Homo sapiens: one gene and its partners. The protein of the gene in region 3 interacts with the protein of the main gene of each other region in a pairwise test. Each region holds a gene or a part of one and is shown on either strand. Other genes may lie near its edges. The genes, in order: DES, CTAG1A, LONRF3 and NOTCH2NLA.

Region 1 (7,376 bases), on a different chromosome or scaffold from region 3:
TGGCAAATCGGTCCTCCAATTCCCGCATCTGCCTCATCAGGGAATCGTTCTGCAGGAGAGGGGGAACCCAGGTCAAGGAAGGGAAGAGGACACTAGCAGCCCAAAGAAAGCTTTGGGGCTGGCAGGCAACTCCAGATGGTCAGGTCCAGGCCATGTTGAACCCTGAACTCAAATTAAGTCTATATGTGAACACTCAGAATAAAATAGATACAAAGGAACATTGCATTCAGCCTCACAGTCCCCACATAGGTAGATGCCCAGGAACCCCTGATTCCTTAGCATCCAACTGGAATCCACTTGTCTGGTTTTACCCCTATTGTAGATTTAAGTAGATGAAGGCCCAGAGAGGATCTATGATGGGCCCAAGGTCACAAAGTGAGGGTGTGAACTGCAGACAGGAAGGGGCAGGGCCTGGCCAGGTGGGCAGGGACTCACAGTGCCCTTCAGGGCGTCAATCTCGCAGGTGTAGGACTGGATCTGGTGTCGGTATTCCATCATCTCCTGCTTGGCCTGGCGCAGGGCGTCGTTGTTCTTGTTGGCTGCCTGGGTCAGGTCTGACACCTAAGGGCAGAGAAAGGGGCCCAAAAATGAGAAGGATGCAGGGCACGGGTAGGGATGAGCAAGGGAGCATGAAGCCTCTGGGCTCTCCTCCCATGGATGGTACCACAGGCAGCACATCCAAGCTGGGATTCAGGGGGACGGAGATGCCAGTCCCCGGGCGAGGCCACCCACCTTCGACTTGTACCACTCCTCAGCTTCAGAAATGTTCTTAGCCGCGATGGTCTCATACTGAGCCCGGATGTCCCTGAGGGCGGCAGTGAGGTCTGGCTTAGACATGTCCATCTCCACCTGGACCTGCTGTTCCTGAAGCTGAGCCTGCAACTCACGGATCTCCTGTAGGGCATGACTGGGCTTCAGTCCCCTCTCAGGGCCCACACAGCACCCTCACACCCCTATTCCCAGCCAGAGCCTCACCCCAACCCCACTTTCCGGCTGCTTTCCCCATGGCCCAGTGACCCCAGGAAGAGGGGCCAAGGTATACCTCTTCATGCACTTTCTTAAGGAACGCGATCTCCTCGTTGAGAGATTCAATTCTGCGCTCCAGGTCAATGCGAGCTAGAGTAGCTGCATCCACGTCCTGGGAGAGGCCAAGCGAGAAGGACATGGTCACCGCCACCCAGGTGGGGCAGAGCAAGGCCAGAGGCCATGCAAGGGGAAAAGAAGGGCACTCACCGCTCGGAAGGCAGCCAAATTGTTCTCTGCTTCTTCCTTCAACTGAATCTCCTCCTGCAGCCTGGGTGGGACAGACAGAAAGACAGACAGTTGCGGGTGATAAAGCTGGCAGTGGAAACGACTGGCCGGGGGCTGACCAGGGGGTGGGTCCAGGACAGAGCGGGAGGGCCTGGCTGCTGGGTAGAGGCAGGAGAGACAGGGAGTGGAGAGGCCCCACCCACCCAGGGAGGGCACAGGAAGTGGCCCAATCTCTGCCCAGGAGCCACACCCTTGAAGTCTATGTCCCCACCAGACTGTGTGACCTCCCTGGGGTTAGAAACTGTGTCTATTTTATCCACCTCTGTGTTTCTGGTTCCCAGCTCCAGCCTGGCCAATATAGCTGCTCAATTAATATTTATGACTTTGGTGGCAGGAGGGTGACTGTGCTCACTTGGCCTGTCAGAAGTGGGACCAACAAATATGCTACACTTGCTGCCCTTTTCGTTCTTGGAGCCTGGTGAAGTCTACAGTCAGGTCCTCCCAAGCTCTCTGAGAGCTGTGACCCCCACCTACTCCCTTTTTCTCCAGCCTGTCCATTCACCTTGTAAAAAGACACAGTCTCGGCAAGGCCCCAGGGCCAAGCTCCCCCCTCCCCCCACCTCCCCCAGGGCCTCATCACAGCTGAGCTGAGAGCTGTTGCTTGGACTCTGGGCCCTTGCCCTGCTTTCCCTGTCTCCTATCAGCCTCCCTTCTCCCTCTGGCTACACTGCCCTCTGGGCCTCCTGCAGCCCTTCCTCTGCCCATCAACTACCTGACCCCATAAATATCGCCCCAGCATCTTAAAATGCTTTTTAACGGGGCTGTCCACAGGGCACCGGGTCCCCTAAATTCTCCCATATCCACCCCCTGATCTATGTCCCCAAGAAAACTCCTGTGCAAGATGGGATCGCAGGGGGAGAGACCTGGAGGTCACGGCCCCTTGAAACACACAGGTGGAGGACCCTTTCTCCACATGGGGCAGGAGAGGGTCCCGGGCCCCGGGAGAAGGCAGGTGCTGACAGCGGGACCCCAGACCCCAGGCCTAGCCTCCTGTGCCCTGCCCGCAGAAAGAGGAGTCTGGGGTGCCGGGCCCTCACTTGGCCTTGAGCCGCTGCAGGTCGTCGAGCAGGTTGTCGCGCTCGACGTCGACGCGCGCGCGCTGGTTAGTGAGCACCTCCACCTGGCGCCGCAGCTCCCGCAGCTCCTCCTCGTAGAGCTCGGCCACTCGCGTCGGCTCGCGGCCCTTGAGCCGGTTCACTTCGGCGGCGAGCGCCGCGTTCTGCTGCTCCAGGAAGCGCACCTTCTCGATGTAGTTGGCGAAGCGGTCATTGAGCTCCTGCAGCTCCACCTTCTCGTTGGTGCGCGTGGTCAGAAACTCCTGGTTCACCGCGTCGGCCAGTGAGAAGTCCAGCAGCTCGCCTGCGCCGTAGGAGGAGGGCGTGCGGGTGGTCCCCAGCCGGCTGGCCCGCAGCGACCCCAGGCCCCCGGCCCCGCCCGACGTGCGCGACACCTGGTACACGCGGGACGTCACCGAGCTGGAGGAGCCCTTAGAGCCGAAACCCGCCCGCGGGAACACGGGCGAACTCAGCGGGGAGCCGAGTGGGAAGCCCGGGGCCCCGCCGAAGGTGCGGCGGTAGGAGGACACGCGCTGGCTGGACGAGTAGGCCTGGCTCATGGTGACGGCGCGGGCGAGGCTGGCGGGCGCACGGAGGAGGCGGCGGGCAGGCGGCCGGCCGGAGAGTGGATGCGGCGAGGGGAGACAGGGCCCCCAGCCGTCGGCACTATTTGTATCCCTCCTGACATCAGCCCCCGCCTCCCCTCCCCTGACAGCTGCAAGATCCCGCTGTCCTGCCAGGAAAGGGCGGCCCGTGGCCGTGGGGGCGGGGAGGCCAGCTCCCCCGCAAGAGGCCTGCGCCCCTGAGTCAGCCAGCGGGGGTCCTGTGACGGGCAAGCCTGCCAATCCTTCGCCAGGGCAGGCAGCAAGCATGTCTGCAGCCCCCAGGCGGGCCTCTTTCAGCCCTGGTTATCTCCTCGTCCTGGGGTGGGGGGGAGTGGGGTCAGGGGAGACAGCAGAAGAGAGGCTTCCCTTTAGTTTGAGGGTCCCCTTTTTGGTCAAGGAGAGACTTTGGGTCATTTCTTAAAGGGTCAAGGCCTGTTCCCAGGAAAGGCCCTAAACCACCTTGTTCCTAAATATTCTCTTGAAGTCGAAGAGGTTTGGGTCTCAGGCAAAGACCAGCCAGGCTTGAGGGTGGGGGTCTCTAGGCAGGAAGGGAGGGCAGGGAGACGCCTGGCAGGCGGAGGGATCCTGGCCAAAGCCTGCCTGCCATGTATGTCTATGGGCGAGCTAGCCCTGAGCCTCAGTTTCCCTCTGGACTAGTGCAGGCCCTCTTCCTCCCCGGTACTGTCGAGGGTGGGGCCTCAAGTTTATAAACAGTGGGCTGATTTCCAGAAAGGGTCTGATAAGCTTTCAGTTTCCAATTGCTATGTGCGCTCCCACCCCCGCACAGACTTTGTGTGGCTCCTGCCCCCTGGGTCCCCCGCCCCCTCCCTGATTCATCCCCCTACTCACACCACCCACGCCCACACACACCAGGGGTTTGTGTTTTGTCAGGAGCCGCATGTCAACCCAACCATCTCCCTGGCAGCAACAGCTGCCAACCCCAAATACCAGAGCGGGTATTTATAGAGGAGAACGCATGGCTGGGAAACAAGGCACAGGAGAGGAGCTGTGGGGGGCAGGGGGTACCTGAGGAGGCATGGGTGGGCGTCAGATAAGGAAGGCTAGGGTGACAGCCCCAATCACTTCCCACCCCCTATAATGCTCCAGCCCCCACCCCCACAAAAATGGAGCCCCACAGAGGGCCTGCCCAACCTCCAAAGCCCCCTCCTTAGCACACGGCACTTGCTAACCCCTAAGGACATCCACCATTCTCCATGGGTACTGGCCGTGCCTCTACACCTCCACTTGGCACTCCAGGTCCCTCTTGGACCTGACCCTTTTGGAATGCAAACCCTGAAAATAGAGTGCTCGATTAGGAGCCAGTCACTGGTCCTACCCTAGACCTGCCATCACCAGCTGGAGGGGTTACTAGTAGGTGTGTCCTTGTCTGAGCCCCAGCTCAGGCACGTCCTCTCTGAGCCCCAGCTTGTCAGATATAAAGTGAGGATGGTTAGCCTTGCCATGCTACCCTATAAAGGTTTAAAGAGGCCCAGGCCCTACTAATGTATGTAGCAACAATAATACCTTACATGTACTGACCACCTAGTGTGGGCCAAGCTGCTGAGCACTTCACACCCATGACCCCCAATTCTCCAACCCTAGGAGGTAGACACTAGCATCATTCCCATTTTATAGCTCAGGAAGCTGAGACAGTGAGACCTCACAGCCTGTGGCTTTGGCCTCAGGATGGGTGTGAATGTGCCGGGTAAATTGTAAAGGGGGCTTTGTTACTGCACTCTTTTCAAAGCCCTTTCCCATTAAGTGTCTAATTTTCATCCAAGAGACAAGCTTCTGAAATAGATGGGGGAGTTCCAGATATTCTTATCCAGCCCTCGAGTCAGTGCAAGCTGTTGTGTTCTGGTTATTTTTGTGTCTCATCTCCCAGACTAGACTGTATGCTCCTGGAGGATTTTGGAGACCATGTGGATCCTTAACACACTCAGGCAGCACCGTCTTTCTCATTGTCATTCAAAGTAGCCTGCAAGCTTTCTTTTGCAATTTCCTTATTTTGATGACATGCTGTGCCTCCTCCCCATCCCTCCACCCCTAAAGACCCTGATTCCAGCCAGTCTTATTACTGCATCTCCCTGACTTCAGTGACTGGGTCAAGGAATGGGCCTGGGAATGAGCAGGGCCAATCAGAGACCTTCCCTGGAATTTATAGACGGAACTGGGATTCTTCAACTGGAACCTGTGGAAGCCATGTTTCCTGCCCCCTGGGGGAGTAGGAAGAAAGAGAGGTCAATATGTAAGAAGCAGAGGAGGCTGGAGAGGAGGAGCAGGCCAGCCCCTTGGTTCCTGCAGTGCTTCCCTCAACTTTGTGAGTTGAGCTCCCACACTGTCCTTCCTGGCCTTGGGCCAACAAACTTTCCGTTTTTTTTTTTTTTTTTTTTTTTAATTTAAGGCACTTGGTATTGCTTTGATCACTTACAGCCCAAAGAACCAGATTAATCTTCCTGAAGGGGACTCTACACCTATTTCTATGATGCTACTGGGACAACATTTCTGGAGCTCTTCTCTGTGAATGATCTCCAGACCACATAAGGAAATTGGCCTTTGGACCAGCCCAAGTCCTCAGTTCCTTGGTGAAAAGAGGCAGAAGACAAATAAATCATGCCATCTATTCTCTAGTCAAAATCAACAACCACCAGACTTGGCCCCGAACCACTTGGGACTGTTTTCAAAATTCAGTTCCACCCCTGAGGATTTGCTACCATGGAGGGCTGCAAATCAACACCCCGAGGCTTGGAAGGCAGGTGAAAGAGGAGCACTCCAAAACATGCTGTGAGCTGGGCAGCACCGCTGGAGGGAGAGTTCAGCCTCCCGAGAGGACCACTCAGGATGGGACACACTAAAAATACCGACAATTTATTTGGATGGGTAGTGTATATGGTACAAAATTCAAGATGTGCAAAAAGGCATAAAATGAAAAGTAAGTCTCCTTCCCACTTTGACACCCAGCCACCCCAAACACTGCTTCAGAGACAACCAGGTTTTGGTTGTTATCGGTTCCTTTCAGAGATACTTCATGTACACACAACCACATTTTCTTATGTGGAGCCCCCACTTCTGAATCAATCTTTTTTCAATGACATACAGCTTAGAGATGGTTCCATTTTAGTACATTGACAGCTGAGTCACTTTTACATTGTGATAAAATATACATAAAATAAAATTCACCATTTGAGCCATTTTTTAAGTATACAGTTCAGTGGCGTCAAGTACATTCACATTGTTGTACAACTATCCCCACCATCCATCTGCAGAACTTTTTCATTGTCCCAAGCTGAAACTCCATATGTATTAAAAATAACCCTCCACCTTCCCCTCCTCCCAGCCCCTGGTAAACATCATTCTACTTTCCGTTTCTACGAATTTGACTCTAGGTACTTCATGCAAGTGGAATCATACCATATTTGTCCTTTTGTGACTGGCTTACTTCCCTTAGCATAACGTCTTCAAGGTTCATCCATGTTGTGACATGGGTCAGAATTTCCTTTCTTTTTAAGGCTAAATAATATTCCATTGTATGTATACACCACACTTTGTTTATCTGTTGATGAATATTTGGGTTGTTTCCAACTTTTGGTTATTGTGAATAATGTCGCTATGAACTTTGGTGTACAAATATCTGTTCAAATACTTATGTTCAGTTCTTTTCTGTAGATACTCAGAAGTGGAACTGCTATGTTATATGGTAATGCTATGTCTAAATTTTTGAGGAACTGCCATGCTGTTTTCCGCAGCAGCTGCACTGTTTTACATTGCTACCAGCAGTGAACATGGGTTCCAATTTCTCCACATCCTGGCTAACACTTGCTATTTTCTATTTGTTTATTTGTTTTATAATATTAATAGTAGCCTTCCTAATGGATGTGAGGTGGTACCTCATTGTGGTTTGTTTGTTTTGTTTTGTTTTTTAGAGACAGGGCCTCTGTCACGCAGGCTGGAGTGCAATGGCACGATCATCACTCACTGCAGCCTCAAATTCCTGGACTGAAGTGATCCTCCTGCCTCAGCCTCCCAAGTACCTAGGACTACAGGTGCAAGCCACCATACCTGGCTAGTTTTTTTACTTTTCCATAGAGATGAGGTCTCCAAACCTATGTTGCCCAGGCTGGTCTCAAATTCCTGGGGTCAAGTGATGTTTCCACCTCAGCCTCTCACAGTGCTGGGATTATAGTTGTAAGCCTCCACACCCAGCCTTATTTCATTTTTTAAAGATAGGGTCTCACTCTGTTGCCCAGGCTGGAGTGCAATGGCATGATCATACCTCACTGAGGACTTAAACTCCTGGTCTCAAGCGATCTTCCTGCCTCAGTCTCCTAAAGTGCTGGGATTATGGAAGCAAGCCACCACACCTGGCTGCTCATTGTGGTTTTGATTTGCGTTTCCCTAATGATCA
Region 2 (6,799 bases), about 36 Mb from region 3:
CAGACAGAATCTCGCTACATTGCCCAGGGTGGCCTCCAACTGCAGGTCTCAAGCCATCCTCCCGCTTCAAGCCTCCCACAGTGCTGGAAATACAGGTGTGGGCCACCATGCCCAACCCATATCACATGCTTAACAGTGATATGATAATGCTGGTTCTATGCATCTATTCAAGTACGTTTTCAAAGAATTTTTCCCAAGTAAAAAAGCTCATATGTTCAATGAAAACAATTTGGGAAAAAATTTAATGCTGACCTGGAAAAACATTATATATGCTACTGTCATATATTTAACATATAAATGCAAGTATATTGAGGAAAATATTCTAAAATGTCCACAGTAGTTAATGCTGAATGGCGGGACCCAGTGGCTTTTCATTTTCCCCCATTTCCCAAATTGCCTCCCGTTACCTTGTGCTACTTCAATCTGTGAATCCCAGAGCCTCCCCTGCAACCCGAGGACAAGGGCATGCAAGTCCGAAGGTGCCTTCGCTCGCCGAAAAGAGACTCAGACACGGAATCGTAGCTCAGTTTTATTTTCTACAGAAACAAACATGTAAGCCGTCCTCCTCCAGCGACAAACAATCAGGCCCCCACAATGAACTGGCCACTCGTGCTGGGACCATTCCCTAGGGGAGGAGGCATGACCTAGGAAGGGGCGCCAGGCTGGGCTTAGCGCCTCTGCCCTGAGGGAGGCTGAGCCAAAAACACGGGCAGAAAGCACTGCGTGATCCACATCAACAGGGAAAGCTGCTGGAGACAGGAGCTGATGGAGAGCTGCAGTTGGCGGTGGTCTGCAGCAGTCAGTCGGCTAAATGTGAGGGGCAGAGAACATCACGTTAAAGGCGACACCTCTGCACCCATCTCCCTGGGCTCCCTCGGGTGGCGGCGGGCCTGGTGTACCAGGTCTCTGTTCTGAGACCCTGTGCTGGGGTGTTCCCAGGTTTCTAGCAGCCTGACCGTGGGGTGTAGGCGGATCCCAGCCCCCACCCTGCCACGCTGTGACCGCCACCCACCCAGGCCCCATCCCTGTCCTGGTCCTGAACTGACATAGTCAGTATGTTGCCGGACACAGTGAACTCCTTCAGAAGCACCCCTGGCACGGGAAGCGGTGGGGCATCCTGGGCCAGGCTCCTGCGGGCCAGCTCTGCTTCCATGGGTGTCGCGAAAGGCATGGCGAGGTAGCTGGTGGGGGCCCAGTTAAGGCATCCTCTCCTAGGACTTGGCCTGTGGCTCCGGCCTGCTGCTTACCCCAGGCCAGCTTCCCCCTCCCCCACTCCCCCACCCCTCCCCCCTACCCCGGATTGCCCAGCCCATCCCCCCCAGGCTGTCTCCCCAGGCACTGGCCCAGTAGCACACCCCACCCAGCTGTCTTGGTTCCCCACTTTCCTTTGCTGCACCCCAAGCTGACTCCTCCATGCCCTTACAAGACCCCTCCCCACCCTGCCCCCTGTGGCATCACCCGGCCCCCTCCTCATCACTCGACCCTCCATCCCAACCACCTCCCGCCACCCGCTCCCATCTTGCCCCCTTCCCCCCACCTCCTGATCCCCTCCTACACCTGGGTCCCCCTATCTCCTGGCCCCTGCTCCCCTCCCCGCATGACCCGGTGCCCCTCACCCAATCACCCAGCCCCTCTCCCCCACCCCCACCCCCTCTACCTCCCAGCCCTTACCTCCTCCCCTCCTCGCAGCTGGCCTCTCATATCCCCACCTCCCAACCCCCACCCCCACCCCCACCCAACCACTTACTCGCATCTCCCCCGCCTCCTCCCCCACCTGGCCCTGCCCTCCCCATCTCCCGGCCCCCACCTCGCCACCAGAACTGTCAGAACAGAACAGAACAGAACAGAACAGAATACAACTCAAGCAGGCGGCTCTCCGGCCCCCTGGCCCCGCATCTGCAGCATCCATTCAGCCCTGAAGCCGCGCCGCCATGCGGACCCCGCGGGGCGCCTCCTCCCGGCCCCGAGGCCCTTGCTGCCCCTGCGCCCCGGGGACCTCTGCCGCCCGTGGCACCCGCCTCTCCTGGGCCGCCAGCATTGCCCCCTGGGCCATCAGGAATGCCAGGGCCTCCTGGGCCATCAGCATCGCCCGTCGAACCCCCTGTGCCCCGGCCTTCGGCCTGCATGGCTCCGGAGCCTCTGCCCGGCTCTCAGAGAGAAGGTCAGGGCCCACGAGGATGCGGAGGCAGAGAGGCTGCAGGAAGTTCCGCCCCCTGGCGTGAGATGGGCAGCCCGGGATCCTCAGGGCGCCTGCGCACAGGGGCCCTACTTCCGGCCCTGGGAGACCCCGAGTGAGCCCCGGAGCACGTGACCGGTTCTCACCAACCCCGCCCCTCCCCAAGAGAGCCCGGGCCGGAAGGTGGCCGCAATGCCAGCTTGGACCCCTCACCCCTGAGCAGCCGGCTGTCCGCCGGACCCCTGTCCCGGGAGCCCTGCAGGGAGTCAGGCACTGCGGGGCCCAGCCTGTCCCATCCCCCGGGTCTCCCTCACATCGAGGAGCAAGACGGGCCTGGGAACACGGGGCCGGGACTGTGCGGCCATCGTCCCGGACCCTGCCTGCCCTGTCCGTCCTTGGGGGAGCGCCCAGGACAGACCCCGGGGGGCAGGCCTCTAACTGGGCTCAGCAGCCTCCGTCCCTGTCCTGGTCGCCCAGCTGGTGGGGTAGCTGGAACTGCATGTCTGGTGGGCGTGGCCTCGCGCCAGCCAAGGTCTCCCAGGCGCCAGGTCCAGCCAAGGTGGACGGGAGGGCCCAGCGGGACCCGGGGCCGGATCTCACTCCTGGGTTCAACGGGTTCTGTCCCTGTCCTAGTCGCCCCGCCTGGTGGGGGAGCTGGAGCTGCGTGTGGGGTGGGTTGCGGGTGGCCTCCCACCAGCCAGGGGCTCCCGGGCTCTAGGCCTGGCCCAGGTGGACAGGCGGGACCTGCTGGACCTGAGGCTGGGTCGGGCCTGGCTCCTGGGTTCGGCAGTATCAGTCCCTGCCCTGGTCGCTCTTGCCTGGTAGGGAGCTGGGAGGTGACCCTGTGTCTGCTCAGTGGTGATCTATTTGTGTGTCTGGAAGGGGGTCAAATCCACGGGACAGGTACCTCTAGAGGCATGCAGGGGTGAGGGCGGCACGGCCCCGGGAGCTGAATGTCTGTGCCAGGCACACCTGTAGCAACAGGAGGTGACCAGACAGGGCCTAGCCCTGAGGAAGGGGGAGGTACTGAAATCCAAACCACTCTCCCCCACCTTCCAAATCCAGGAATCAGCAGCCTCTGCACCTGGGAAAAGCATATTGGCACTCATGTGGAAACTAAAAACGTTGATCTTTTGGAGGTAGAGCAGAATGATGGTTACCAGACGCTGGGAAAGGTGGGGAGGGTGGGGAGGTTAATGGGGACAAACATATAGTTGCATAGAAGGATTAAGTTCTAGTGTTTGATAGCACCGTAGAGGGACTATAGGTAATTATTTATTGTATATTTCAAAATAGCTAAAAGATAGGAAATGTTCCCCAAAAAAAGAAATGATAAATGCTTGAGGTGGTGGAGATCCTAAATACCCCGACTTGATCATTACATCGTGTGTGCGTGTGCATGTATCAGAATATCACATGTATCCCATAAATATGCAGAGTTATCATACATCAGTTAAAAATGTTTTTACTTACAGAAAAGAAAAATTCACCCAAGCTCTTGCGTGTACCTCCAGTTTATTATTTTCACTGCTGTATTTCATTACATATATTTCATTAAATGATGAATTTTAAAAACCAGAGAACACAACTTGTTAACACCTGGAATAGCTGAAAATCAGACATAACCCGGTTAGTGATTGCCATCCTTCCTGTCGTCCTCTGCTCAGTCTCCCCATTCTCAGACAGAGGCAGGCTAAAGTTCTTACCTTCAACAGGTCAGGGAAGGGAGAGTAAAGTGCATGTGACCCTGTCTTAGGAAGCAGGAAGACAGAGGGAGGGTCTCCGGGTCCCCATTATTTTCCCGGCCTATTATCCTCAGATCAAGTCAAGAAAGGAAGTCCTAACTGACTGAGAGATTCCTGGAGATACTGCCACTGTCCTGGAAGTCTCAGCCAGCCACTGGACCGGAAATCTCCATCAATATTTCAGCCAGAGCAACGTCTGCCACTAGATGGCATCAAACTCCAGCCGGGAGCAGGACAGATTTGGATGGTCCAGCGGGCTTGCCTCATTCATTTCATTAACCCCACAGTAACACATTTTCACATTGTATGCGATTGGATTTCTTGGAAACTACCTATTACATTACGGCAGAGTTTTATAGTCCTCTAATTTATCCATTCTGCTGATGATGGGCAGGCATTTGGATAGTTTCCAGCCCTTGGCTATGAACATGCTTGTACAGGTCTCTTGAAGCACATGTCCAAGTTTTTTTTTGGAATTGCTGTATCACAGCCAATACATATCTCGAAATTTACTAGATAATGCCATGTTTTCCCAAGTGGTTTGAGCCAATTTTCGCTTCCACCATAATGTGTCAGCGTACATACACATAGCTCAACATTCTCATCAATATTGACGGTACTAATCCGTTCTCGCATTGCTATAAAGGACTACCTAAGACTGAGTAATTTATAAAGAAAAGAGGTTTAATTGACTCACAGTTCTGCAGGCTCTACAGGAAGCATGGCTGGGGAGGCCTCAGGAAAGTTACAATCATAGCGGAAGGCAAAGAGGAAGGAGGCACATCTTATATGGCCAGAGAAGGAGAAAGAGAAAGTGAAGGGGGAGGTGCTATACACTTTTAAACAACCAGATCTTGTGAGAGCTCAACATCACGAGAATAGCAAGGGGGAAATCGACCCCCATGATCCAATCGCCTCCCACCAGTCCCCTCCTCCAACACTAGGGATTACAATTCAACATGAGATTTGGGTGGGGACACAAATCCAAATCATATCATTCCACCCCTGCCCCCTCCCAAATCTCATGTACTTCTCACATTGCAAAATACAATAATCTCCTCTCAACAGTCCCCCAAGTCTTAACCCATTTCAGCATTAACTCAAAAATCCACAGTCCAAAGTCTCAACTGAGACAAGGCAAGTCCCTTCTGCCTATGAGCCTGTAAAATCTAAAACAAGTTAGCTACTTCCAAGATAAAATTGAGGTACAGGCATTGGGTAAATACTCCCTTTCCAAAAGGGGGACATCGGCCAAAACAAAGGGGCTACAGGCCCCATGCAAGTCCAAAACCCAACAGGACAGTCATTAATTCTTTTTTTTTTTTTTTCCACTACAAAATAATTTATTCGAACACACAGCTACAGCGCGAGACTCCTATGTACAAGCACATTGACGCTCCTGACTACCCTCAACTAGAGGACCCTTTTCTTCCCCCTTGCCTTGCAGACCTCTTCTATCGAATCTTTCATGTACTGGATCTCCTCGGCCAGGGAATCCGCCCTCTCTTGCAGAGCCTCGTTCTTCTTTTCCACCGCTTTGCACTCACCAGTGAGGACCTCCTGCTCCACCCTCTTCTTCTGGCGATACCTAGTTCCTGCTGTTTGGTTTTGCTCCATTTTTTTTTCAGCTTCTTATCCAGTTTCTCACCCTTTACTTGTGCTGCTACCATCTTCTCTCCAGGAGGGTCATAAGGTTTGGGGCAGGCAGAGCCACAGAGGACACCTGGAGATGGCGGGCTCCTACTCGGAGAGCCCCTGGAGGTAGAGGGAGAGCCCAGATAGGACTCTGGGCTCATACAGATGCCACTATCATTATCTGAGGGGGCGTCTTCCTCCTTTGTGCAGTGAGGGATCTTGGAAATGTAAGCAGTGGAGTCTGGCTTCCTAGCTCCTTCAAAGATATCCACTTCACTGCCCAGCTCTAGACTAAAGGAATAATCTGGAGTGGAGGACTGGACCCCTGGGGAAAGGGGAAGAGGTTGCAAGAAGGTGAAGGGGGCAACCTGGTCGGGTTAAACTTTCTGGGAGATGGCAAATCGGGTTCACCATCTGGGGGGGGCTCCTTAATAGTCTCCTGGACTGGGGGGGCTCCTTAATAGTCTCCTGGACTAGGGGGGCAAAGAGATCACACGAGTCATCCAACGTGGCCAGAAGCTCGTCTGGCATGGTTTCCAGGTCATCTATACCCAACAGGGCATCAAAGTCGAACTCCTTCAGATCAGTTTTCTCCAACATCCAATCTGTCCCAAAGAAAGCATCCTCCTTGCCATCGTTGGAGGCACTGACCAACCCATCCACAGCCAGCCACTCGGAGGAGTCTGCCTTAGCCTTGTCGCTGGAGAACCCATGAGGTTTGAAGTGCTTGGCCACCTCCAGGTAGTCATCTAAGAGACCTAGGCTTTCTTCAGTCCCCAAACCTGACTGGTCAAGGGGGGACATCAAGCCCCCACCAACACCTCGCTGCTCAGGAAGCTCATCTCGGTCATGGTGCAGTGCTTTGCTGGAATCAACGAATGTGCTTAATTCGAAGGTGTCTTTGTCGGTTACAGCAATGCTGCTGCTGAATGCTGTGAGAAGTGCTACGGCTTAAGCCGCCGGTGGATGCCACTGCAGAGCCTGGTGCTGCTGCCACCGCTGCAAAGGCCAAGGCTGCCACAGGCACTGCTGCCCCTAAAACGCCATGGAGGCCATGGACCCTGCAGGCGGGGAGGAGGGAAGGTGCGCACGTGCGGAGGAAACTACATCTGTGGGCGGGCGGAGCAGAAAATCGTCATTAATTCTTAAAGCTCCAAAATAATCTCCTTTGGCTCCATGTCTTACATCCAGGCCACACTGAGGCAAGGGGTGGGCTCCTGAGGCCTTGGGCAGCTCCGCTCCT
Region 3 (7,023 bases):
GCAAGTTTGACCCCCTTCTTTCTCTCTCTCTCTGTTGCCCTTCTGCTATGCCCTTCCACTATGTTATGATAAAGGAAGAAGGCCCTTGCCAGATGCCAGCACCTTGACCTAGGACTTCCCAGCCTCCAGAACCATGAGAAATAAATTTTGATTGTTCATAAATTATTAGTCTGTGGCATTCTGTTATAGTAGCACAAAATGGACTAAGGAAGCCAGGAACTGTGCTCAGCATTTTATGTACATTATTAACTCACCAATCTTCCAAGCAAACCCAATGAGGTAGGTACTATTATTGTACCCACTTTACAAATAAGGAAACTGGGATACAGAAAGGTTAAATAGCTTGCTCAAACTCAAACTTGCTCCAAGGCTGCAACTAGATAATGAAAGCAGGCAGTTTGACTCCAAGGCCCACATTCTTACAAGTTTTATAACATATACCACCTGTTTAACCAAATATTAATTCTAGGGTTCTTTAAATAGACAGCCTCTCACATGGTAAACTAACCACCAAAGGGACAATGATCCTTACAAATGCTCATATTCTTCAGTTGGCTAAACCTCATGAGCTAGGCCTCCCTGTCTCCTGGGAGTACCCCAAAGTAAAACAGAAATCCCTCATTACACAACCTCCCTTTGCTCGCATGGCTCCTCACTTACCCTTTGACAGGATCTCCAAGGCACATGCCAAACTGTCTCGTGCCTGTCTCAATGCATCTACGAATCATCAGGCGGTAACAAGGCTCAAAGATGTGCAGGGGACAAGGAACGGTGGGATAGGCCATAGTACACACGAAAATAGGCACATTCTTATTAAGGCTGTCAGAAAGAGAAAATGACAGGGATCTCAAAGCAATCGGACAGAACACAAAAATATTGGTCAAATGTTAGCATGTGATACCCCTGGGGGAAGGCAGAGACACCAAGTTTGTTTTTTGACAGTGTCACTTGCCAAAGATACATCAAGTTTTGATGGCTAATAGAAAAATATTGAAATGCAATTGATAGTGTGGGCTGAGTCCCATGATCTGATGCAGAGGTTAGCCTAAGGTCTAAGAAATTAAAATTGGCATTCTACACATTTTAATTTGGCTGAAGAAGTTCTCTAGTATCTTAATATTGTGGATGATAGCTATAATTCATATTTTTTCTTACTTTCATGCTCTCCACTCAAAACAATCTTTTCAGGTGTTTTTCAGGCTGCATGGGGAAGGTTGCTGATGATAGAAGTGGACTCAGCTCTCCAGAAGGGTGGTGGGAAATTCTCTGTAAGGTCCCTAGGGCATCTCAAATTTGCAAGGACCCCAAAGAGTCTGCAAAGGAGGCACAGCTGAAAGGAGGAAGGACCAAGAGATAGGCAAGAATAATCCAGCCCAGTGATGCTCAAATGCTTCTTTGCATCAGAATCAACAGGGGCTCTTCAATCAAGATGACTTGGACACCACATTACCAGAGATACTGATGCATTAGCTCTGGAATTGGGACCCAAGGGTCTTTCTTTTTCTTTTTTTTTTTTTTTTTAAGCGGAGTCTCACTCTGTCACCCAGGCTGGAGTGCAGTGGTGCAATCTTGGCTCACTGCAACCTCCGCCTCCCGGGTTCAAGCAATTCTCTTGCCTCAGCCTCCTGAGTAGCTGGGATTACAGGTGCATGCCACCATGCCTGGCTAATTTTTGTAATTTTATTAGAGATGGGGTTTCACCATGCTGGGCAGGCTGGTCTTGAACTCCTGACCTCAAGCAATCCACCGGCCTCTGCCTCCCAAAATACTAGGATTACACGCATGAGCCACCATGCCCGGCCCTGCCTTTCAATAAGTACCCCCAGAGATTCACACACACAACCCGTTGGGGAACCAAAACAGAGCCAGCTCTTCTGGGATCCTTGTCTTATTTGTCTAGTAAATCCAACACAGGAACATCTGAACCTAAACCTATCAAGAAATATAAGACCAACTGCCCAAATCTCAAAAGGATCAAGTTCAGGATTCATTTACATAGAAAGCCCTAATACATCTCAGTATTTGTTAATAAGACCTTAAATGAGATTTGAGATGAGGGCTCAGAGAGGCTCAATGCTAATTTACAGATCAGAAATAAAGATAAAGATCCCCCGAGTAGTTCCAATGTAAATTAATGAGAAAAAAAAAACGATTTCTAGTTTCTGAGAAAAGCATTAGTCTAAGTGAGGAGTGCATTCAAACAAGCCACTGGCAGAGTTTACGAATGTTCTCTACACAGTGGGCATGAAACCAGAACCATTTTTGCTGTCAGGAACCTTGCCTCTGGAATGCTGTTAGGATTCTACTGCGGATGGAGGGAGGAGAGGGCAGAAGCAAGAGAGGCAGAAATTAGTGATTGCCTCCTGCTTTTTCTGCTAAGGGAGCTGTTCTTACAGCCAGGCAGAGTGCTGAGAGCCTCAATGACGCCTCTGCCCCTCCCCTTCACCTCTCACATTACCTGTGCACGGCAGAGAAAGCGCTTGACAAGTATTAGTATTATTACCATTAATTAAGTGCTTACTATGCACAAACTCATTTGATTTTCATAAGAAGTCCATGAGGTGGCCAGGCATGGTGGCTCACGCCTGTAATCCCAGCACCTTGGGAGGCCCAGGTGGGAGGATCACTTGAGTTCAGGAGTTCAAGACCAGCCTGGCAAACATGGTGAAGCCCTGTCTCTACTAAAAAATACAAAAATTCGCTGGGCATGGTGGTGCATGCCTGTAATCTCAGCTACTCGGGTGGCTGAGGCAGGAGAATCGCTTGAACCCGGAAGGCGGAGGTTGCAGTAAGCCAAGATCGTACCACTGCACTCCAGCTTGGGTGACAGAGTGAGACTCAATCTCAAAAAAAGAAGTCCATGAGGTAAGAACTCAAGTTATTAAATTATTCTCAAGCTACAGATAAGGAAACTAAGGCCCAGAAAGGTTAAATGACCTGCCTAGGGTCGTGAAGTAGACTCACTTTGAGGTAGAACTGGGTCTTAAGCCCGGTTCTGGTTGACACCAAAGTTCTTAACCTCATAGCAACTCCTTATGTATCTGAAAACAATCTTTTGGACATTTCGTTAAGTTCCCCTGTTTATGCTACTCCAATTTACTCTTGCCAACAATACCCTGTTACTGGGGGCAGGGCGTACCCTCATCACTGGTTTCGCTTATGCTTCTTCAGTGGTATGCTGGTATGTTTAACAACTGGCTCTCTGGGTGCAGCGGAAACCCTGGTTTGTAGCACTTGCCAATTTCCATGGTGTAAATACTCTCACCATAGCCAATTTCAAGCAGCTAGCATGACATCACTAAGTCGGAAGCTGGGAAGTAATGTGCACATTCAGCTCTCATTGAGCTGGTATGAGTGAAACAAAACAGAAATATGCATATACATACTTAGAAAGTTCTTCCATTTCCTCTTCATAAAGCTTCCTTCGTTCCTTCAGTTCTTCTGGAAGGAATTTAGCTATGAGCTCCTCCATTATTACATTTTTGCTGTATTTTCTTGATGCCAAGCACTACATGGGGGGAGGCAATTAGACAATATGCAATTAGGTAATACGTAGCAATCAGCAAAACACTTCTGATGTAATCAGTGAACAAGTCAAATGACCCACATATTGGAGTAATCTGGACCCACAAATTAGCAGCTGTTACCATCATAATATATGTATTTTCTGGATGTTAGTTTCATTTAAAAAAACACACATGCAATTGATTATCTTTATAATTAGAAAAAAATTTTTAACAAGGGGGTAAAACCTGCATTGAAGTTTTAAAACTCTCACAGTTTTTCTGAAACACTGAAATCAAGATCATGTTCTTGTCCAAAAAGTAGGGTGGGGGGAATTCTTCCCTTTCCATTTTCTGATGATTGTATTTACAAGCTCACAGAAATTGTCTCCATCTGGGATATGCTCAAAGTTAGTGGCCAAAAGTTTCAGGGAACTAAAAAGCAATTTTCAATCACTGAACCTTTCCTGCCCTGTCCCACTCCCAGCCTAACCCAATGCTTGGCTTCTGGATATTGCCAAATATACCTATTTTTTCTCTTTTAATTTTAGTTTAAAAAAACACAAACAGCTAAATATTGATTTGTCTATTTGCCTTTCTAATATACCATCTAGGTATCACTGAGATTAAAAGTCATGATTTCAAGAACTGGACTCAGGCTCAATTGTCACTGTTACTCTCCTCCCAAACACCCCTGTCCGATGCATACCCAGGGATGTTTAGGTAGTGGGTATTTAACGGTGTGAATCAAACAACTGATGTTAAAACATCTGCAGAGAATTGCTTGCTATGGAAACTACCCCTACAGTCCCAGCAGGGGGAGCGCCTGAGTATAAAACTGTTGGCTTCAAACAATTTTGTTCCTTTCTCAGTATGGGCTGTGTCTCTATTCTGCAGTGAAAATGATTGGAATATTTAATTCTATGTAAAATGGTGCAAGTGTGACCCTATGTGAATAAACAGAGATAGATGAGAATATCTTCTAGACCCCAAGTCCTGAACTCTATAGCATCTGTCTCCAGGATGCCTTATCTGCCACTGTCACTGCCATTGCCTGGCTATGGGAAAATCAACTGCATTTCCCAGTCCCAGTTGTGGGGGATAAGCATTGACTGAGGAGGTAGTCAGTCTAAAAAGTAGGTGACTCCTCTGCTGATACTAAAACAAAAAGCCAGAAAAGGCACATACTAAAATGTTAACTAACAGTGGTTTTCTCTAGGTACTGAGCATATGGGTAGATTTTTCTTCTTTCCACTTAATCTGAATTTTCCAGTGCTACAACAACACAGATGTATTATTTCAGTATAAGGATCAAGGACTTCTCACCTACAATCAGGCCTGCAAATCCTACAACTTTATCCAGGGAAAGGTATGACATTGACCCTCCTCCCAATCCCAACGCATACCCTCAGGGCTACCAGTGATGATGATTTCACTCCATTCCCTTAATTTAAATACTGGGGTGATGGTAAAGCTCAACATGTGACTTCTCTTGACCTGTAGTCACCTAGAGATAGCCTTGCATCTCCAACCTCTCCTCAGGAATGACAGGGGTCAAGGAACATTAACACCGATTGTAAAATGTGGCAGATAAGTCCCTGAGGGAGGGAAAACAAGATAGATTCTCAGGTCTTCTTTATCTGTAGGAAATTCCTTCAGGTTCACTTGAAAAACAAAGGTGGGAGTTTGTGTGATTAGTTTTAGAGAACCTGGAAGTCCTAGAGGGCTGCGGTCTGCAAAAGCTCTAGGGCTTCCAGGTACAGTGGCTCCTGATGGGTTGGACAAGGATCACACTGAAGTTCTGTGAGGTTCTTCTGGGGCCTTTGGAGCTGTTATCTTCAAGCCACAGAATAAACACTGATGATAAGGGAACATCAGGGCTTACCTAGTCCAATCCTAGAGGGGACAAAAGATTTACTCAAGATTACAGTGTATCAGGTGCCACGATGACATTAGAACCAGGATCCAAGTTTATCATCTATTTAATACTTTCGTTTCCAACACAAATTAATTTCCCTACTTACACTGCATAAAAAGCTGCATGTTGCCTCATTTTCCTGAAGGACTTTATGGAGAGGGGGACAGTGGCTATAAGACAGGAGAAATAGGCTGGGCGTGGTGGCTCATGCCTGTAATCCCAGCACTTTGGGAGGCTGAGGTGGGTGGATCACCTGAGGTCAGGAGTTCGAGACCAGCCTGACCAATATGGTGAAACCCCATTTCTACTAAAAATACAAAAATTAGGCCGGGCGTGGTGGCTCACGCCTGTAATCCCAGCACTTTGGGAGGCCGAGGCGGGTGGATCATGAGGTCAGGAGATCCAGATCATCCTGGTTAACACGGTGAAACCCCGTCTCTACTAAAAATACAAAAAATTAGCCAGGCGTGGTGGCGGGCGCCTGTAGTCCCAGCTACTCGGGGAGGCTGAGGCAGGAGAATGGCATGAACCCGGGAGGCGGAGCTTGCAGTGAGTGGAGATCACGTCACTGCCCTCCAGCCTGGGCGACAGAGCGAGACTCCGTCTCAACAAAACAAAACAAAACAAAACAAAACAAAACAAAAATTAGCCGAGCGTGGTGGCATGCGCCTGTAATCCCAGCTACTTGGGAGGCTGAGGCAGGAGAACTGCTGGAACCCAGGAGGCGGAGGTTGCAGTGACCCGCGATCACGCCACTGCACTCCAGCCTGGGTGGGAGAGTGGAGACTCAGTCAAAAAAAAAAAAAAAAAAAAAGAAGACAGGAGAAATAGATGGTTTGAGGGAGTAATGTGCCCTACCACAGTGCCGTGGCTGGGGGTCCAGTTGAACACTGTCTTAGTGCCCAATTCCAAATAAACTAAACAAAACAAGAAAGAAATACTGATTTAAACCAAACAAGAAAGAAATATTGATTTACCTGTGAAAGACCGTCTTTGCACAATGGACACTTTGCGTTGTGATCTAGGCATCTTTCTAGGCATTTTAAGCAAAAAGTATGCCCGCAAGGTGTTGTGACTGGCTCATAGAATAATCTGAAATTTAGGAATCAAAATGGAAGAAAACTGCAATAAGACCAAAAATAAAAGAGTGACTCAAAGCTAAGTTTTTAAAGCATTATTTAGAATATTTTAGGGTGGGGGAGGAGTTCTTTTTAAAAAGTCGCTATTGTTATACTTCAGATAAACATTTGCCTTTCATTTTTGAGCTGGATTAAAATACATTTATTAAAGTTTAGGGCATAGCTAGATCATTTTGTAACATCAATTCTAGTCTATCTCTTCTGGGGAATTCAGATTTTTTGCCCTGTCTGGTCCAAGAAAAATAGAGATTAATGCACAGAGTGTCTGGATAAATTCCATTCCGAAAATATTTAGCCAACCTGTTCACCTGAGTATATGTAAACACACACACACAAACACACACACACGCACACACATTCTCTCTCTTACACATTTACCCATTTAAGCACTTTACATCATATTACCATGGAAAAAAACCGTTTGCTAACCTTGATTCCTCTTTTCGTCTAAGCAATGTTAATG
Region 4 (7,995 bases), on a different chromosome or scaffold from region 3:
ATCCAGGTGAACCAAAAGTTGCTTCTCTATGTCATAGAAGCCTACAGGAGAGGCAGTAGGGTGGGAATGGAGCAGAGAGATCCCAAGAAGTTATGGGTAAATATTTTTTAAATCTAAACATTCAGAAAAATAAGAGAGACTAGGAATCACTCTCCTCCTCCTCTCCACCACACCAAAAAAAAAGGAATAATAAGAAAGTGAAAGGAAAAATAGTTTTAGGTTAAATTTCATCACCATCTGAAAGAAAATTACTCCGATTTTGTTTAAGCAAGAGAAGAATTCAGCTGAGAAATTATCTAGCAGGCAGCAAAATCAGGGAGTCACTTCCCATTGCAAAGCAAAAGAAAACAAGGAGCAAGAGTATGGTCCTGGATAGCTGTTTAGACAATCAGACATACTGCTAACATCTCCTTGCCTTAGAAACTCCGTGATGTTTAAATTAACAATTGGCCACAAGCCAAACACAGGAACACTCAAAAGTTTAGAAGGGTGTGCTGTAATTGGTACCTTAGCAAAACACAATAATAAATTAGGAGGATTCAAGAAGCCTTCACTGTAGACTCTAAGAAGATTTAAGATTTGTACCAAGAAACAGGCTTCTAAATCTCTTCTACTGCATTAGTTTAGCATCTAAAGAACACCTGTCTAAAAATCAAAATATCTAAATCCTATCCTTTGAGTCAACTTGACTAACACTCAACTTGACTACCTAAAAGCTAGCTAATAATCGCAGCACCTCAGCAGAGCAGAGGTGGAGGGCATAGTTTTACGCACTGAGATCCTATAATAAAAGAAGCCCTATGTGTCAGAGTAATCCCATTTCTGACATATTATTTAATACTTAATTTTTCAAATCACTTTACAATCATATTTATTATTCCCTACAATTCTCTAAAGCAGGTTATTCCTTTAGTCCTGCTTCATAGGTGAGGAGACTACATATCATGAAGATTAAGTTATTTACCAAAACAAGTTAATGATAGACCAAGGATTATTACCCTCAGACTGTCTCATTGATTATACTCCTCTCTATCCTAAAGCTACACTTAAAGCTTTCACTCAAAGAAAAAGGAAAAGCAAAAACACCATCATATATGCTCTTTATTAAATGCTTCAGAAACAACAGCTCTGCTTCATCACTACAAAGCCTCCTGGTCCACTTCTGAAATTCTTAGTGACCTAGACGTGTACGAAATTTGAACTTTCCAAGAAGTATCTAGTTGGTGCTGAACAACCCAGTACTATTTTCGGGTGATAAATAACCTTGTTCTCTTTTTAAACATCTGCGATTGACATGTCGACTGACTGTTAACAATGAACAAAGACCATATTTTTCTGAAGCTCATCATCTTCCTAACCTTTTCTTTGAAAACAGATGTAGTTCATGTACTAGTTTTTTGGTGAAGGTAAAAATCTTTATTCAGATTAGGCTCAGAAAAAGAAGGGGCTGCTTTCCGTTCAACAAATATGCACAAGACACCATCCCACTGGGAGCATCAATCTCAGAAGCAGTAAAACACAGCCTCGGCCCTCAAAGGACTTTCTGAACACCTTTGGAGTGTCATCCGTTTAATATACATTATTTTAATTAATCCTATTAGCTGGATAATTTCATTCCCATTTTATTGGTGAGTTCATATAGCAGAGCTGGATTTGAATCCAGGATTACAGAGCAGGGCTCCAAAGCCCAAGTTATTTCCACTAAAGGGTCTGAAGAAATGTAGAATCTAAAAGTGTGGGTGGGATGGGGAAGATATGATTTGATTCCCTTTCCTTGGTCCAACCGTGTTAGAAACATCCAACCACAAAGAAGCTTTCTAAGGAAGCCCTTTGAATTGACGTATCCACTTTTTCTCACCCGCCCGTGCCCCACCCCCAGCCATGCCAAAGGAGCAGCAAATGCTGCTGCCAGGTTGGAGGAATTGGTGATCGTCACACCACATTCCTGGGTCTGGACACAGCCTGAAACAGCAGCAGAGCTCCGCGCCTCAGAAAGAATAACAGCAGTTGAGATTTTTAAATCATGTGCCTCAGCATGCAGCCACACCAGTTGCCCTACTTCTCCTGCCTCCACCTTTCAAAGACGCGAGCAGCACACCCGGCTCCTCCGGACTTTCGGTGGGGTTGGAGTGTCAAAACTCAGGCGCGCCGCAAAACCCCGTCCCCATCCAAACCAAGCCCACACACCCGGCCCATGTGCCGCCCCCTGGCAAAGGCGAGGCTGGCTGCGAAGGTGCAGGCCGTTTGGCTTGGCGGCCCTGCCCCCGCTCTCCACGCCAGAATCTGGCATTCCTTCGCTCAGCCCCTCCGAGGCCCGCCGTCGGCTCTCGCTCGACCCCAGGAAACGCGGAACCTGAAGGGCAAAACTGCCCACCTCCCTGCACCCTGGCACTACGAAAAAGGAGTTTCTGAGACTTGCTGCCGGCCTCCCTCCTGCCGAGGAGGCGTGTGAGGGGTCCCGGGCCGCGGGGAGCAGAGGCGGCGGGGAACCCCGGCGGTTGGCGGGGAACCCCGGCGGTTGGCGGGGCACCACGGGAGGGGCCCCCGGCGATGTCCAAACTCTCGGGAACCCAGCGAGTGGCCTCGCTCCGCGCCGGCGGCCGAGCCTGGCCTTCCCACACAGAGAAGGACCGAGGGGGAGAAGGGTCGCCCCAGGTGGCAGCCCCGGGCGCCGCGGACAGCGCCCCTCAGCCCGATACTCACCATGCGCGGGGGTCGCGCAGCACAGCCAGAGCGCCAGCAGCGCCCACAGCAGAGCGGGGCGCAGGGCGGGTATCTTCTCGGTCGCCTCCTCCGCCGCCGCCGCCGCGGCCGCCTGGGCAGATCCACATGGGGAGGGGGTCCCGATAGAGGAGCCCCACTCTCTCCTCCCCTCCTCCTGCTTCAAAGGCTCAGGCCCTGGCGCTACGCTCCGAAGCCCAGCGCAAATGCCTCGACTCCCCGCGCCCCGAGTCCGCCGCTCCTCGGCCGCCGCCTCAGCCGCCGCCCGAAGTTTGGCTGAAACTTTCTCGGGTGTGCAGCGAAGCAGCCTCGTGTGTCCTTCCGCCTCAGCCGCCTCCTCCCACCGCAAGCCCCGCCCCACTGTCGCCGCGGCCTCGGCCCCGCCGCCTTGGGCACCCAGGGGTTTCCCGCAGGAAGAAGCGCCGGCCCGAGCTCCGCGCGGAGGGATCTACTACGAGTCACTGGCCCCGTCCGCATCCTTCTCCAGCGGCCCCGGGGGCCGCCGCGCCTTAACTCGATCAGGGCTGCAGCGGCTCGCTGGCTTGACCAGTGCAGAAGGGGCGTGGAGGTGAGCGGGGTGGGGTAGGACTCTGAACTTCAAGCACTGGAGTTTGCCGGGATCGTGAACTTGCAGGGAGAGGCGGTCCTCATCCAGTGAGGTCTGTATCGCCACCTACACCCACACATCCACACACTGCTTTGCTAGCTAGAGGAATGCTCTGGAGTAGGACCAGTGCTGTCAAAGAAGGAAAGTGGGCCAAGGCGCCAAAGTCCATTAAAAAGGAATAGAGCCATCACGGAGTGGTGCTGCCCCATTCATTCATTCATTTGTTCATCCGTGTAGCGAATATTTCTTAAGTGCCTTACTTTGCGTAGCTGTGTGCTTGGCAGTGGGATGATACCAAAGATGCACAAGCAACTTTGAGTACCAAGACTTTGCCGCTGTGGGCTGGGGGATTCAGGGAAGGCTTTCCCAGAGGAGCTGGGATGAAAGCAGGATCTTGAAAGGTCAGTAAAATTTGTATAAGACAAGGAGACCAGCTAAGCTAAGGATATTCGTTGTAACACTGTAATAGCAAAACCTTGAAAACAACATAAATGCCCACCCTTAGAGGAATGGATGAATAATGTATGGTATATTTATAAAATGAAATGCAACACAGTAATTGAAAAGACTATAGCTATTTATGTCAATAGGGATAAATCTTAAAAACTAAATGACAGTGAAAATAATCGCAGAGGGAGACAAAGTATACCATTTATGTATATTTTTTTCAAGACAATACTACACATTATCTGTGGATGCATATATATAGATATAGATATTAAGAGACTATAACCAGAATAGTAGTTACTTCCAGGGCAGGAGAGTAGGGGGTGTGATCAAACCTGGGTACAAGTGGGCTTCTAAGAAAAGAGCTAAAAGTAAGAACAACAACAATAGTTGTATGGACATATCATTCCGGGAAAGAGCCCTCGTGAAAGCAAAGGTACAGTCAGAAGAGTAAGTAAATGAGTTCTGTCTCTGTTAGCAGTGAGAGGAGTCAAGGACGGAAAGGGGGTTGGGACCAAATTATGCAGCCTTGAATGGCAAGCTGAAAGGGTGGGGAGGCAGCTACCTCTTAGGTCACATAAAACTATTGAAAGTTTTTGAACAGAGTTGAGATTGATGGAAAGGAAGATTGCTCTGATAATTCTGTAGAAAATTGATTGTTGGGAGCAAGAGGTGAACTGGAGCCCCAGGACCAGTCAAGAGTTGGTGAACAGTCCAGGCACAAATTTAAGAAGACCTGAACTAATAAGGTAGATTTCAGAAGGAATGAATCTGAGACAATGTTAAAGAAACAGAAAAAAAAAATGGAGGTGTGACTAATTGGATGTGGGAGTTTACAATCCTGTTGGGATGAGAAATCCTACCCATAGAACCTCTCCCTGACTCCTATAGGATAAAATTCAAACTTCTAAACATGGTACATACAAGGCCTTTTCGTCATTGGGCCCCATCTCCTGTCCTCCCTGCCCCTGTTGTGAACTTCACACAATAACAGTATTACTTGAGATTCCCCCAAACATATCTTGCTGTTTCTGTCCCTGTATCTTTTGTTCCTTTGGCTTGGAATGACTCCTGTAGTCCCCTTCCCTCCTCCTCTTAATGAACTTCTAATCATAATTCATCCTTCAGTCCAAAGAAGGCTTTGCCGACACCACAATAAATTCCTCCCTCTAACAGACAGTCCCTCCACTGTCTTCCACTGCCGCTTCTTTATCTTAACACCGATACTTATTTTTCACACAGGACTCTTTGTATTTCTGTGTTCTCAACTAAGTTTTGAGGTCCTCATGGGCAAAGACCACAGCCTATTAATCCCCAGTGTCTATCACATAATAGATGTTGAACTAGAATGTAAAACAACACTAAGCAAGTACAAGTCAGTATGGGCATAGACCTATGAAGTTCCAAAACTGCATGTTAACAAGCACTTTAGGTAAGCAAGTATCATTAGTGAAAGTAGTCACATTGAAATACTGGAAACCCTTTTCAAAAATAACGTAGTCAAAATATTTTTGGAATTTGTCTTGTGCAAGTATGTTCAGAGAAAGATAACATTATTTTTCAGTTGTTTACCCACAGTGTTACCAGTTCGATCTTCCTCTTTACTCACTAAAGATAATTCATAGTGACTTGGCTGCATACAAATTTTAAAAATCACCTGCAAAGATAAGTTTTGTCACTATTAAAATATATTCAGAAGAATATAAGATAGTTATCCCCAAAGAGCAACTCTAGAAGCGACTGTAGCTATGACAACATTATTAAAATAAATGTGCAGGCCAGGCGTGGCGGCTTATGTCATAATCCCAGCACTTTGGGAAGCTGAGGTGGGCAGATCACCTGAGGTCAGGAGTTCGAGACCAGCCTGGCCAACATGTTGAAAACCCGTCTCTACTAAAAATACCAAAAATTAGCCGGGCATGGTGGCGAGCACCTGTAATCCCAGCTACTCAGGAGACTGAGGCAGTAGAATCACTTGAACCCAGGAGGCAGAGATTGCAGTGAGCCAAGATCGTGCCACTGTACTCCAGCCTGGACAACAAGAGTGAAACTCCGTCTCAAAAAAAAAAAAAAAAAAATAGGTATGCAGTTTCTCAAAGTAACCGTTTTAAAGAAAGCAGCTATTATGTTCACATATAACTTTTGTTGAATGTGTTACAATATGAAAACTTACTGCATACATTCTGGTAAGGACAAGAGAAGTAAAGAGTAAATATGAATGGAAGTAAGGGAAAAATATGACTGAAGACATTTTTTAAAGATAAGTTTTAATGATAGAAAAATATGAGTAAGGGCTACCAATTGTTTTAGTTTTAATCAAAACTAAAAATATACATCTATGTCTTTACTGATTTAAACTCACATAAAACTGCCTTCCAAAATAAATGCAGAATTGGGCACTTATTTGTTCTCATGTCTGTCCTCTCAGAGCCGACAAGCTGTAAAAAACTCTCAAAATAAAACTCTGTTTTATTTTCTGTTTTGCCCCGGTTTCTATCACATAAGTGCTCAATAATATATGTTTTACATAAATGCTGAATGAGGAACATATATATCTATATAAACTGGGGAGCAGTGCAAGACTGGAAGAATGTCTTGGTGTGTTGGAGAAGTTGAAGAAGAGATTGTGGGATAGCTATGACACATAGATTGAGCTACACCACGAATCTCTCCATGTAACCCAGGAACCCAAGGATATGTGATGAGATGTTTGTGGAAGCAGGAATTAAAAGGAAGATTTCTTTTAATAATGCCTTGCAGTTGCACAGTGATTTAGACCTTCCAAAAACACTTTTAATTATATTATCTCATTTGATCCTCAAAACAATCGTGGGAAATAGGCACCCCAGTCATTATTATCCCCATTTTGCAGATGAAGAAACTGAGATAGAGCTTTAAGTATCTTGCCCAAGGTTAAATAAGTAATTAGTGAGCTGAGACAAACCCCCCACTATTTCTGTCCTCTTACTCAGTCTCACTCCACTGTACCTTTGTGCAACAATGTGAAGCACATCCAAGATGATATTTAGTGTGGGGACCTCTGCGTAGAGGGACACCAGTTTCTTGTCACTTCCATATTAGCACAGAACAAGCTGGCCCACTGTAACTAGGAAACATAAACAAGTGAATACATTCTTTTAATTTAAAATTTTTTTGAGAGCCTGTTCTCTATAAAGCACATACTAGGCTCTGCGGCAATGCAGAAATAAATAAAACCTAGTCCCTGTTCTTTGGAGATCACAGAGCAGTGAGGCAGGCCAACATACAAATAACATAACTACAACAGAGATAAAGCACAGGGATATGGGAAAGTAGAGAGCACTGGGATTAATTTTGAGTCCACTTTCCTCTCATCCAGTCCCCAGCCTGAAAGATATGAACTGTGGTGGCCCACACAGCTGGACTGTAAACCATGTGACAAGAGTCATTTCTTACCCCTTATTCATGTTTGTAAACTCCACAGTAGTTGGTTCTTTGCCTTGCATAGAGTATGTGCTCAATAAAGACCTACTTTCTGAAAGGTTCACAGAGTTCAGCCAAACACAGGACAAGTTCTAGAAGGCAAGACGTTAACCTCAAGATTCAAACTAGCTCTGAGAATTAAGAACCAGCCAGACCCTTCCACTGAGCCTAGACCCAATTAATTACCTCTGCTCTAATTAAGGGAATCAGTAATGTAAGTAATTGTAATATGGGCGATATAGTTTGCCTGTGTCCCCACCCAATATCTTATTTTGAATTGTAATCCCCATGTGTCAAGGGAGAGACCAGGTGGAGGTAATTGAATCATGGGGGCGGTTTCTCCCATGCTGTTCTCCTGATAATGAGCGAGTTCACGAGATCTGATGGTTTTATGTGTTTGGTAGTTCCTCCTGCATTAATTTTCCTTCATGCTGCCTTATGAAGAAGGTACCTTGCTTCCCCTTTGCCTTCTGCCATGATTGTTAAATTTCCTGAGGCCTTCCCAGCCATGCTAAACTGTGAGTCAGTTAACCTGTTTCCTTTATAAATTACCCAGTCTTGGGCAGTTCTTTACAGCACTGTGAAGACAGACTAATACAGTGGGCTTGTTGACATAGTTTTGCCCTTTTATGAATGTGATTATCTCAATTTTATTATGTTAAGGAAGGACACAGTGGCCCACACCTGTAATCCCAACACTTTGGGAGTCCAAGGCAGAAGGATGGCTTGAGCCCAGGAGTTCAAGACCAGGCTGGGCC

What was found.
Region 1: the proteins of LONRF3 (region 3) and DES interact in binary tests that used the Homo sapiens proteins (3 or more experiments, as listed by UniProt).
Region 2: the proteins of LONRF3 (region 3) and CTAG1A interact in binary tests that used the Homo sapiens proteins (3 or more experiments, as listed by UniProt).
Region 4: the proteins of LONRF3 (region 3) and NOTCH2NLA interact in binary tests that used the Homo sapiens proteins (3 or more experiments, as listed by UniProt).

What each region holds. Positions count from the first base shown.
Region 1 is NC_000002.12:219,414,013-219,421,388, reverse strand, and holds the start of DES (desmin), read right to left. Parts: upstream 3,013-7,376; 5' UTR 2,927-3,012; coding exon 2,349-2,926; intron 1,295-2,348; coding exon 1,234-1,294; intron 1,139-1,233; coding exon 1,043-1,138; intron 895-1,042; coding exon 733-894; intron 562-732; coding exon 436-561; intron 50-435; coding exon 1-49. UniProt on the Homo sapiens protein: Muscle-specific type III intermediate filament essential for proper muscular structure and function.
Region 2 is NC_000023.11:154,580,534-154,587,332, reverse strand, and holds CTAG1A (cancer/testis antigen 1), read right to left. Parts: upstream 2,201-6,799; 5' UTR 2,127-2,200; coding exon 1,858-2,126; intron 1,182-1,857; coding exon 1,047-1,181; intron 808-1,046; coding exon 669-807; 3' UTR 517-668; downstream 1-516.
Region 3 is NC_000023.11:119,005,611-119,012,633, reverse strand, and holds part of LONRF3 (LON peptidase N-terminal domain and RING finger protein 3), read right to left. Parts: intron 6,514-7,023; coding exon 6,399-6,513; intron 3,509-6,398; coding exon 3,387-3,508; intron 820-3,386; coding exon 661-819; intron 1-660.
Region 4 is NC_000001.11:146,226,006-146,234,000, forward strand, and holds the start of NOTCH2NLA (notch homolog 2 N-terminal-like protein A), read right to left. Parts: upstream 3,017-7,995; 5' UTR 2,707-3,016; coding exon of another isoform or gene 2,704-2,706; intron 1-2,703.